Linked DNA regions of Homo sapiens. The protein of the gene in region 2 purifies or fractionates together with the protein of the main gene of each other region. This does not show direct contact. Each region holds a gene or a part of one and is shown on either strand. Other genes may lie near its edges.

Evidence for each region.
Region 1: the proteins of DUS1L (region 2) and THUMPD2 fractionate together in Homo sapiens (co-fractionation; one large-scale study listed by BioGRID). This does not show direct contact.

Annotation. Positions count from the first base shown.
Region 1 is NC_000002.12:39,769,101-39,772,909, forward strand, and holds part of THUMPD2 (U6 snRNA (guanine-N(2))-methyltransferase THUMPD2), read right to left. Parts: intron 2,541-3,809; coding exon 2,405-2,540; intron 1,020-2,404; coding exon 610-1,019; intron 92-609; coding exon of another isoform or gene 1-91. UniProt on the Homo sapiens protein: Catalytic subunit of the THUMPD2-TRM112 methyltransferase complex, that specifically mediates the S-adenosyl-L-methionine-dependent N(2)-methylation of guanosine nucleotides, most probably at position 72 (m2G72), in the U6snRNA of the major spliceosome.
Region 2 is NC_000017.11:82,062,699-82,067,276, forward strand, and holds the start of DUS1L (tRNA-dihydrouridine(16/17) synthase [NAD(P)(+)]-like), read right to left. Parts: upstream 3,107-4,578; 5' UTR 2,915-3,106; intron 2,817-2,914; exon of another isoform or gene 2,656-2,816; intron 2,372-2,655; 5' UTR 2,362-2,371; coding exon 2,125-2,361; intron 1,537-2,124; coding exon 1,428-1,536; intron 821-1,427; coding exon 770-820; intron 276-769; coding exon 163-275; intron 1-162.

The DNA.
Region 1 (3,809 bases), on a different chromosome or scaffold from region 2:
GAGTAGCCACTGAATAAGCACAAAGCTGAACTGAAGAGAAACCCCAAAAGCTGAGGACTATGGTATCAGGATTTCCAAATACAAAGGACATCTGTAGATTTAAGGAAATTTTTAGGCAGAAAGTATAAGAAAGTCATTACTTGGAATGGCATACCATTCCTCTTAAACATCTGAGGAAAAATTAAAAGGAAAATGTAGTTTTAAAGACATTTAATTCCATAAGAACTAATTGTCTGCGGCTAGTTATTTGTTCTGTGAGAGGTTTGCATCTCATTTTAAATCTAAAGAATAATTAATTCTTTAAAAAATGGGACCCCCAGGCCAGGCATGGTGGCTCCCGCCTGTAATCCCAGCACTTTGGGAGGCCGAGGTGGTTGGATCACTTGAGGTCAGGAGTTCCAGACCAGCCTGACCAATATGGTGAAACCCTGTCTCTACTAAAAATACAAAAATTAGCTGGGTGTGGTGACGCACACCTGTGATCCCAGCTACTCAGGAGGCTGAGGCAAAAGAATCACCTGAACCTGGGAGGTGGAGGTTGCAGTGAGCCAGATTGTGCAACTGCATTCCAGCCTGGGCGACAGACTCCACTTTAGGATGCAAGCATACCTGTGCAGTGAAGGCCTTTCCAATAGTTCCACTGCAGCGACAAGATACTCTGAAAGTCAAGTCATTCTGATTATGAGTATCAATTGCTTTCTCTATGTCATTCTGAAATTCTTCTTCTTGAAACTTTTCGCTTTTAGTGGTAAAATCTCTTTGCTCCAGAGTTTCTTCTTTTATTTGTTTTTCCAGCTGGCAGTCCCTATTCTCTTCTATCTTTTGCATTTGTTCTATTTTTAATTTCTTTGCAATGATTTCATTTTCTCCCACTTTTCTTTTTAGTTGGTTATCATCTCTCTGAGAAAGTTTTTCCTTTTTTGCATCAAGTTCAAGAAGATTTTTCCAAATTGAAATGGCATTCAACCAACTTCCTGGATCTTCATTTATAAGTCTTTGCATTTCATTAAATATTTTTCCTAAATAAGAAAAATCTTGTTGATCCTCTATTGAAGCTTTAAAGACCATCTATTACAATCATCACCCTCAAACTCAATTACCTTTATTTCCTTGAATTAAGTTTTATTAAATTGCTACACGAATAACTTCACTTTCATTTGGAGTTCATATTCCATTTACCATAAGAATATTGTGCAGAATAAAGTTCATTCTTACATTGCATATATAGCATCCGTATTGTGTTAAAATTCCTATAGAATTACCATATAATACCCTAGAAAGATTATTTGTGCTATGGTAATATATGTATCTCTTCAATATATACATAGACCTAGAGTGTTTATCAATCTTTGAAATAATGGTGATCTTCCCTATAAAAATTAAGTTTTTATAAGAAAAAAATAAACTGAAAAACTCAGCTCAGAAACAGAGGAGCTGAATCTTGGGCCTGTTACATTTTAGCCCACACCATATTAATAAGTATATTATAATGTGTTTCCATAAAGTAACTCACAACCCATTTATAGCTTAGCATACTGCCAGTATGCTCAGCAAAGTTTAATCTCTTCTTGATGAACCACAGTCATCAAGATGATCCAAAATTACTGTATTTCTTTAAGATGAATGTGTGTAGAGTACTAGGAGGAATTATATTGATCCCACAGTATAATACTTTGGGATTTGCTTTAAAACAATTTTCTCTGCTTGGTCTTGATTTCTTGCCATTTGCATCTTTCTTAAAATAGTTTATTATAGGCTATAAATACATGATCTCTTACGTAATTCAAATTGAAGTTTACGGCAGCATTTAATCCTGCAGTGTCTGACCATGTTTTGCTGCTTTTATCAAGATCCATATGTTGTTTTAGCAGCATATTTATAAAATTTAGAGAGTGGACAAGGAATCTCTTATGCCCCCTTTACCTCTAATGCTTGGTAAGTGGGCATAAGTTTATCGAAAACATTTAAGGTCCTAGAAATATAAATTTTTACTATGCAGTATTTTTCCAATTATATCACACAGTTAAAATTTACAAGGTGATGATTTTCACTGATTTACTATTAAAAGAATGCATTTTGGATTAGTTCATGTTTCTAAATCCAAATAAATGCAACTGACCATATATATCTCTAGAGAAGGTACCTGATCATAATTCTCAAAGAAGAAATGTGGCTTAGGACATTAAAATCTCATTAAAAAGGCAGCACGCAGGTTGCAAAGAGAAGAAATATTCTACTACAATCAGGTGATAATATTCAGGAAATACAGAAAAATACATAATTAATGATCCCACACATGTCAATGAATATTAAAGTGTAAAATGGCTACATATTATCAAGCAGAAAATGTTGGAGTACAATGTATCATGTGGGTAAAAGCAACATGCATATGAATATGCCATACCTTTACTTACAGAAGAAATAATAAGTGGAAACTGCTTTTTAATCAGCAAAAATAATCTTTCTGCAGATTTTAATTTCTTCAACATATTCAAATCAGAACAGGTGGTGAAAAAAACCTTTCCTGAAATATATTCAACCTAGAAATAGAAAAACAGCTTTTAATGTAGTCCAGTGTCAGTGAAAAAACCATATTTTTTCCCTCAAGATATAGCATCTAAATTAAAAATAAAAATAACCATTTCTGAAGTATCTACTATTTGTCAGGCTCTGTACTAGGAACACTGAATAAGTATTTTCCTCCTTATCCTTATAACCACCCTCTAAGGTAGATTCGATCACCACCAAAAGTAGACAAAAGAAAGGTATAATGTATTGGACAAATTAGGTGTCTAGCCCAAGATGGATATTTATTGAAGACCTACCTGTAGGCTACCAGGAAGCATAAAACATATATCCTGAATAATAACAGACACACACTGACATACACATTAAAACATAAGATTTATAAGACAATAACTTGAATTAAATCCAGAAGAAAACTAAAAAGTTTTAACATTATAATGCACTGACAAGCTGTAAGTACACTAAGTAGCAATGACTATGAAAGCCGACATTACAAAGAGTCTTGGGAAAGAATCCTGTAAGATTTGAGAAGAAGGATTCTAACAAAAGAACAAGGGGCAGATGCGGAAGTGGGGGTGAAAACCTGGCTGAAGTAAACTGTAAGCAACATTTGCTTTATTATGCTGATTGATAGTGTCAGGTGGATGGATAAAGTAGTTTAGGCCAGCTTGACAAATGGTCATGAAATTTTGAGTACCACGAATGGTAATGGTCAACCATTATAGACTTTTGATGAAAACTGTGACAGCACTGAATTAGCTGGCAGAAAAAATTACTCCAGAAGAGGCATAAAGGACTGAGTGTAGAATGTGATGCTAGAGGGAGAAGTAGGTTACTAAGGTAGAAATGATGAGATACTTGGCTGCAGAAACTAGATAATGAATAGAAGCAAGACATATGCATCAAACAGAAACAGGTTTTGGAGACAGGATGGATATGTGGCAAGAGAAGGAAAATGAAAAGAGCACTGACTCACAGGAAGCCTAACATGCTGTGACAAATGGTGCTCAATACCAGTGGAATCTTAACTCTTTTAGGGTCAACCCAACCCTCTTAAGTCCAGGATGGATGTGGGCTTTCTTGGAATTCTCTTTTTAGCAGTGGCCACCAATTGAATAACATGGTTCTAAATAATCTCCTAGAACACAGACACCAGGGAATGTGGGGTTTCCTGTGTGTTAAGGCAGCTACCATCCATGGGTACTTGAACTCCAAGGGTTTATGCTTGTTTTGGATCTGTCAAGATCTAATTAAGCTCTTGGAATGGTAATTTCTGGGGTTGC
Region 2 (4,578 bases):
GGTGGTGGCACTCAGAGCCAGTGGGGACAGGCCAGTCAGGAGGGCCACTGCCCCCATGAGGCCGACGGTGCACGGTGTCTGGACACAGGAAGAGCCTCAGCTATGTCCTCTGCGCAAAGGCCCAGCTGAGGCCCATGACACCCCCGCGAGCCCAGGGCTCACCTGGCAGCCGGCCTTCTCCAGCATCTGGGCGTACCTCACGGTCTTGTCAATCTCCGGGAAGACACGGATTTTGCACGTGACAGGAACAGAGAGTTTCTCGTGGGCCAGCAAAACTGGGGAGAAGAGAGGCAGCTTCTGAGGGGGCCATGGTGTTCCCACTTTAGCGGCCAAGCCCCAGAGCCCAGGGCCCTGCAGACAGCGGAGCCCAGGCAGCTTTGCCGGGAGGCTGGGAGGCAGCCCGGGCCACCATCTGGGTGTCTCCCTCAGGTTGCTGGGCAGGCTCCCTCCGCCATACCCCCGGCCCTCCGAAGTTCAAACAAGCAGGGCCAAGGCCGGCTCTGTCTCCCAGGACATCTGGGGCTGGGCCCGAGCAAGGACTCTGCCCTGGCACCTACTGTCTGGTTTTAAGGGGTGGGTGGTGCAGGACAGGCAACTTCACAGCCACCTCCTTCCAGCAGAGAGGCTGCTGTGGGCAGGAAGCCCCAGGGTGATGCTGAGAACTCCTGCCAACGCCTGTCCTCTCCTGAGCCCCAACCAAGTGGACAGTGCCCATGTGTCCCTCTTGAGGGTCTCTGGGGGTCCTTCACCATCCACCCAGCCAACTCACTCATTCTTTGGAGCAGGTCCCACTCGTCCTGCAGAAAGGCGCCATAGTGACCTGCAAGGAGCAAGCATGGCCTGGCTGGCACCTGTGTTAAGGCTGGTGGGGCCGAAGCCTTGCACCCCCTCTGCACCCTTTCCTGCATCCACGCAGGCCAGGAGCTGCCCTGTCAGGCGGGACACAGGTCCCCAGAACCAGCAGTGTCTCCAGTTGGGGCAGTGGGACAGTCAGAGCAGTGGTTTGTCGGCATCAGACTCAGGGGCTCTATTTGCCCAGCTGCCTAAGCTCAGAAGGTGCTGAATGGAACCCCCACCCTGCACGGTCTGGAACCAAGTAACACCTCCTCAGGGGCCCGGTGAGGTAGCAGGCTCAGCCCCACACACAGCAGTGCAAGGGGGTAATGGGGACCCTGTATCAGCAATCATGTTTATGCAGAGGGAGCTCCCTGAGGGAAGAGAGAGCCAGTAGGGCTCGGCCCCTAGCCCCCAAGGCCTGAGGACAGCCACCCTCCAGAGGCGGAGCACAGAGGACAGCTGGCTCCAGCCTGAGCCACTGTCACGACAGAGGCAGGGCCTGCCGTCCTCCAAGCTCACCACACCTGGGGCTGCACTGAGCTGGCTCTGGCCCCTGCCCCAGGTGCCCCCATGCTCCACATGGAGCTCACCTCTCTTGGCTATCATCTGTGGGCAGCCCAAGTTCAGGTCAATGGCGTCACAGTAATCCTGAGCCAGGAGAGCCGCCTGAACAAACACCTCCGGGTCATTGGCACAGAACTGGAGAAGATGCAGGAGTCAGCCACGGGCCCAGCCAGGCCCTAGTCCCTTGCTGCCCAGCCCTACGAGAGGTCCAGTGTGACCCCATGAGGGTGTGGGCCCAGGTTCACTGCAGGAGGGTGCTCTGTCCTGCGGAGGCTTACAATATGACAAAGCCGGGAGGAGTCCCCAAGCCACCCGGATTTACAGATTTTCTTCTGAACTGTGGCAGAAGCCACAATCACTGACTTCTGAAGAGCAGAGCCATCTCCACTGGTTCTGAAGAGGGAGTGTGAGTGTGAGAGGCAGCAATCCAGAGGCCCCAGCAGGGCTGCAAACCTCACAGCACCCAGGCTGCCTGAGCCACTCCTAGAGAATGGGGTTGGATTCTGGCAGGTGCACCTGGCAGCCCTGGCTCCACCACAGGAATCACTGCTGTGGCTACGTGGACTCTACATGCCTGGTGCCACCTTCTCCCTCTCCTCCTGGAATTGAGCTGTCTCTGGAAAGGCTGAAAGTGATGTCCCGCCACAGAGAGAAGGGTTTTTCCCCAGGCATTCCAGGACCGGGAACCCAACCGCGGCCGCGGCCACAGCCCCTCCTGCGCACCTGCACGATGAGGGGCCGGTCCTCGGGGCACACCTCGCAGTACAGGTTCTCCTTCCGGTAGTTGGCGTCGCGGACAAAGACCTGGGCATGCAGCATGGGCGTGTAGCAGAGCTGTGCCCCGTGGCGCCGGCTCAGCAGCCTCCAGGCCAGCTCGCTCTGGTCCACCATGGGGGCCACGACGTGGCGGGCCCCTCGCAGGGTGCGGCTCCAGAACTCGAAGCCCTGCAGCTTTGGCATCGTCTCCAGGCTGGGGGAAAGGCGCAGACCCGGGGTTCAGCCAGGCCCAACGAGGGGCTTAAGACTCAACTCAGAGGCAGCGGTCACCCTTCTAAGGCCGCTCCAGTACCACCGTTGGGTCACACGCGGGGGCACTAAAGGCGGGGGTCGGTGCAGGCTGGAGAACGGCCACTCCAGTGCCGCCACCTCCTAGCGGACCTCGGGGGAGCCGCTGGACCCCTGGGACTTGACCCTCCCTGGGGAGCGGGACTCGATGTCGGCCTGGTAGGGGACTGGCGTGAAGGGGGAAGAAACCTTGACGCCAGCGTCCCCGCGGGCCTGGCCCTGAGCAGGCCGCCCGGCGGTGAAGTTAGGACCCCCGGCCCCTTCCCGGGAGAATCGGCTCCGCGCCGGGCCAGGGGAAGGGCAGAGCTTCCTTCTCCGCACCCGGCCAGGCGGCCCGGCTGGCCCGAAACGCCACAGGGGCGCCCCTCGCGAGACTCCTCCGGAGCCACGCGGCGGGCAGCGTTTGCTGTGTGAAGTGACAGGAGCCCACACGCCTCCGCGTCCTCACCGCGCGAGGGCCCCGCCGTGTCCGCCGCGCGCCTTTGGCTCCGAGGGCGCCGGGTGCCGGTGTCCCGGGCCCGCCCCTCTCCGGCCTCGCCGCCGCCCGGGGCCCCTGCAGCTCCCGGGGCGCCGCGAACGCCCGCACCGCGCCGGGGCCGCCGCCGGGCCGCAGCCGGGCCCAAGGCTCCGCGCCGCCACCGGAAGGTGCCCGGTCCTGCGCGGTCCGGGCGGCCCACGGTGCGGCGGGAAACGCGTTCCCCGGAAACCGCGCCCGGCTCCGAGGGGACCGGCGACGAGAGGTCGCGGCGCGGGGTCGGAGGTCAGAGGCTGAGGTCACCACCGTACCCGTCAGGCCGTGGCTAGAGAGGGGTCGGGGCTCGCCGGGACTCACCGACAGCTCGCTGGAAACGAGGCATGTGGAAATTGGGCCTCGCTGAGGCGCACATAAGGCCCGGGCCGCGGGTAGACCGTGGGCGCTGAGGCCCTGCGCTGCCCAGCCCCCAAGTTCGCATTGGGGGCTTCATCCCGTTATATCCTAAAGCGGCCCCAGAGCCCTGCCTCGAACCCACTCACCTGCCGCCTCTGAAAGCCACTCACTTTCCGCCGCTGCGTTGCGGAAAATCACCCTCCAGGGACCTTCCTTGCCCGCCCTGGGTTTCCGCAGCCGCCAGCCTTCGATCGACTTTCCTACCCGCCGTGGACCCTCCTTGGGTTATTTCGAGCTGTGGGGACCCACTGGGAACCCCAGAGTGGATGTGAAGGTTATTTTAAACTGAAGGCATTTGAGACCCAACAGATGTAAAAAGCAGCTTTGTCAGAGCTTTCCATATCTGAGAGCGAAGCCCGAAGTTGAACCAGGACATTCAGTACCTAAAACATGTGAAATCTCTTGGGCCCCCGGAATCACTAAGGAAAACTCAGGCTGGAAGCTGCTCAGGGCAAACCTGCCTCCCGCTCTATTCAGAGTCACCCTCTGCTCGCTGAGATAGATGGATATCTGACTGACTCCTTTGAAAAGGCTCATCAGAAGGCTGGGCGCGGTGGCGCACATTGAGACCAGGAGTTCGAGACCAGCCTGGCCAACACGGTGAAACCCTGTCTCTACTGAAAATACAAAATTAGCCAGGTGTGGTGGTGCGCCCCTGTAGTCCCAGCTACTCGGGAGGCTGAGGCAGGAGAATCGCTTGAACCTGGGAGGCGGAGGTTGCAGTGAGCCGAGATCAAGCCATTGTACTCCAGCCTGGCGACAGAGCAAGACTGATCAAAAAGGAAAAGAAAAAAAAAAAAGGCTAATCAGAAACTCAAAACAATGTAACCGTTTGTGTATCACCTATCTGTGACCAGGAAGCTCCCTCCCCGATGGCTTTTGCTTTAAATTGTCCCGCCTTTCCAGACTGAACCAATTTTTTTTTTTGAGACGGAGTCGCTTTCTGACCCAGGCTGGAGTGCGGTGGCGTGATCTCGGCTCACTGCAACCTCCATCTCCCAGGTTCAAGCGATTCTCCTCCCTCAGCTTCCCAAATAACTGGGATTACAGGCACCCACCAACACACCCAGCTAATTTTAGTATTTTTAGTAGAGATGGGGGTTTCACCATGTTGGCCAGGCTGGTCTCGAACTCCTGACATCAGGTGATCCGCTGGCCTCCCAAAGTGCTGGGATTACAGGCGT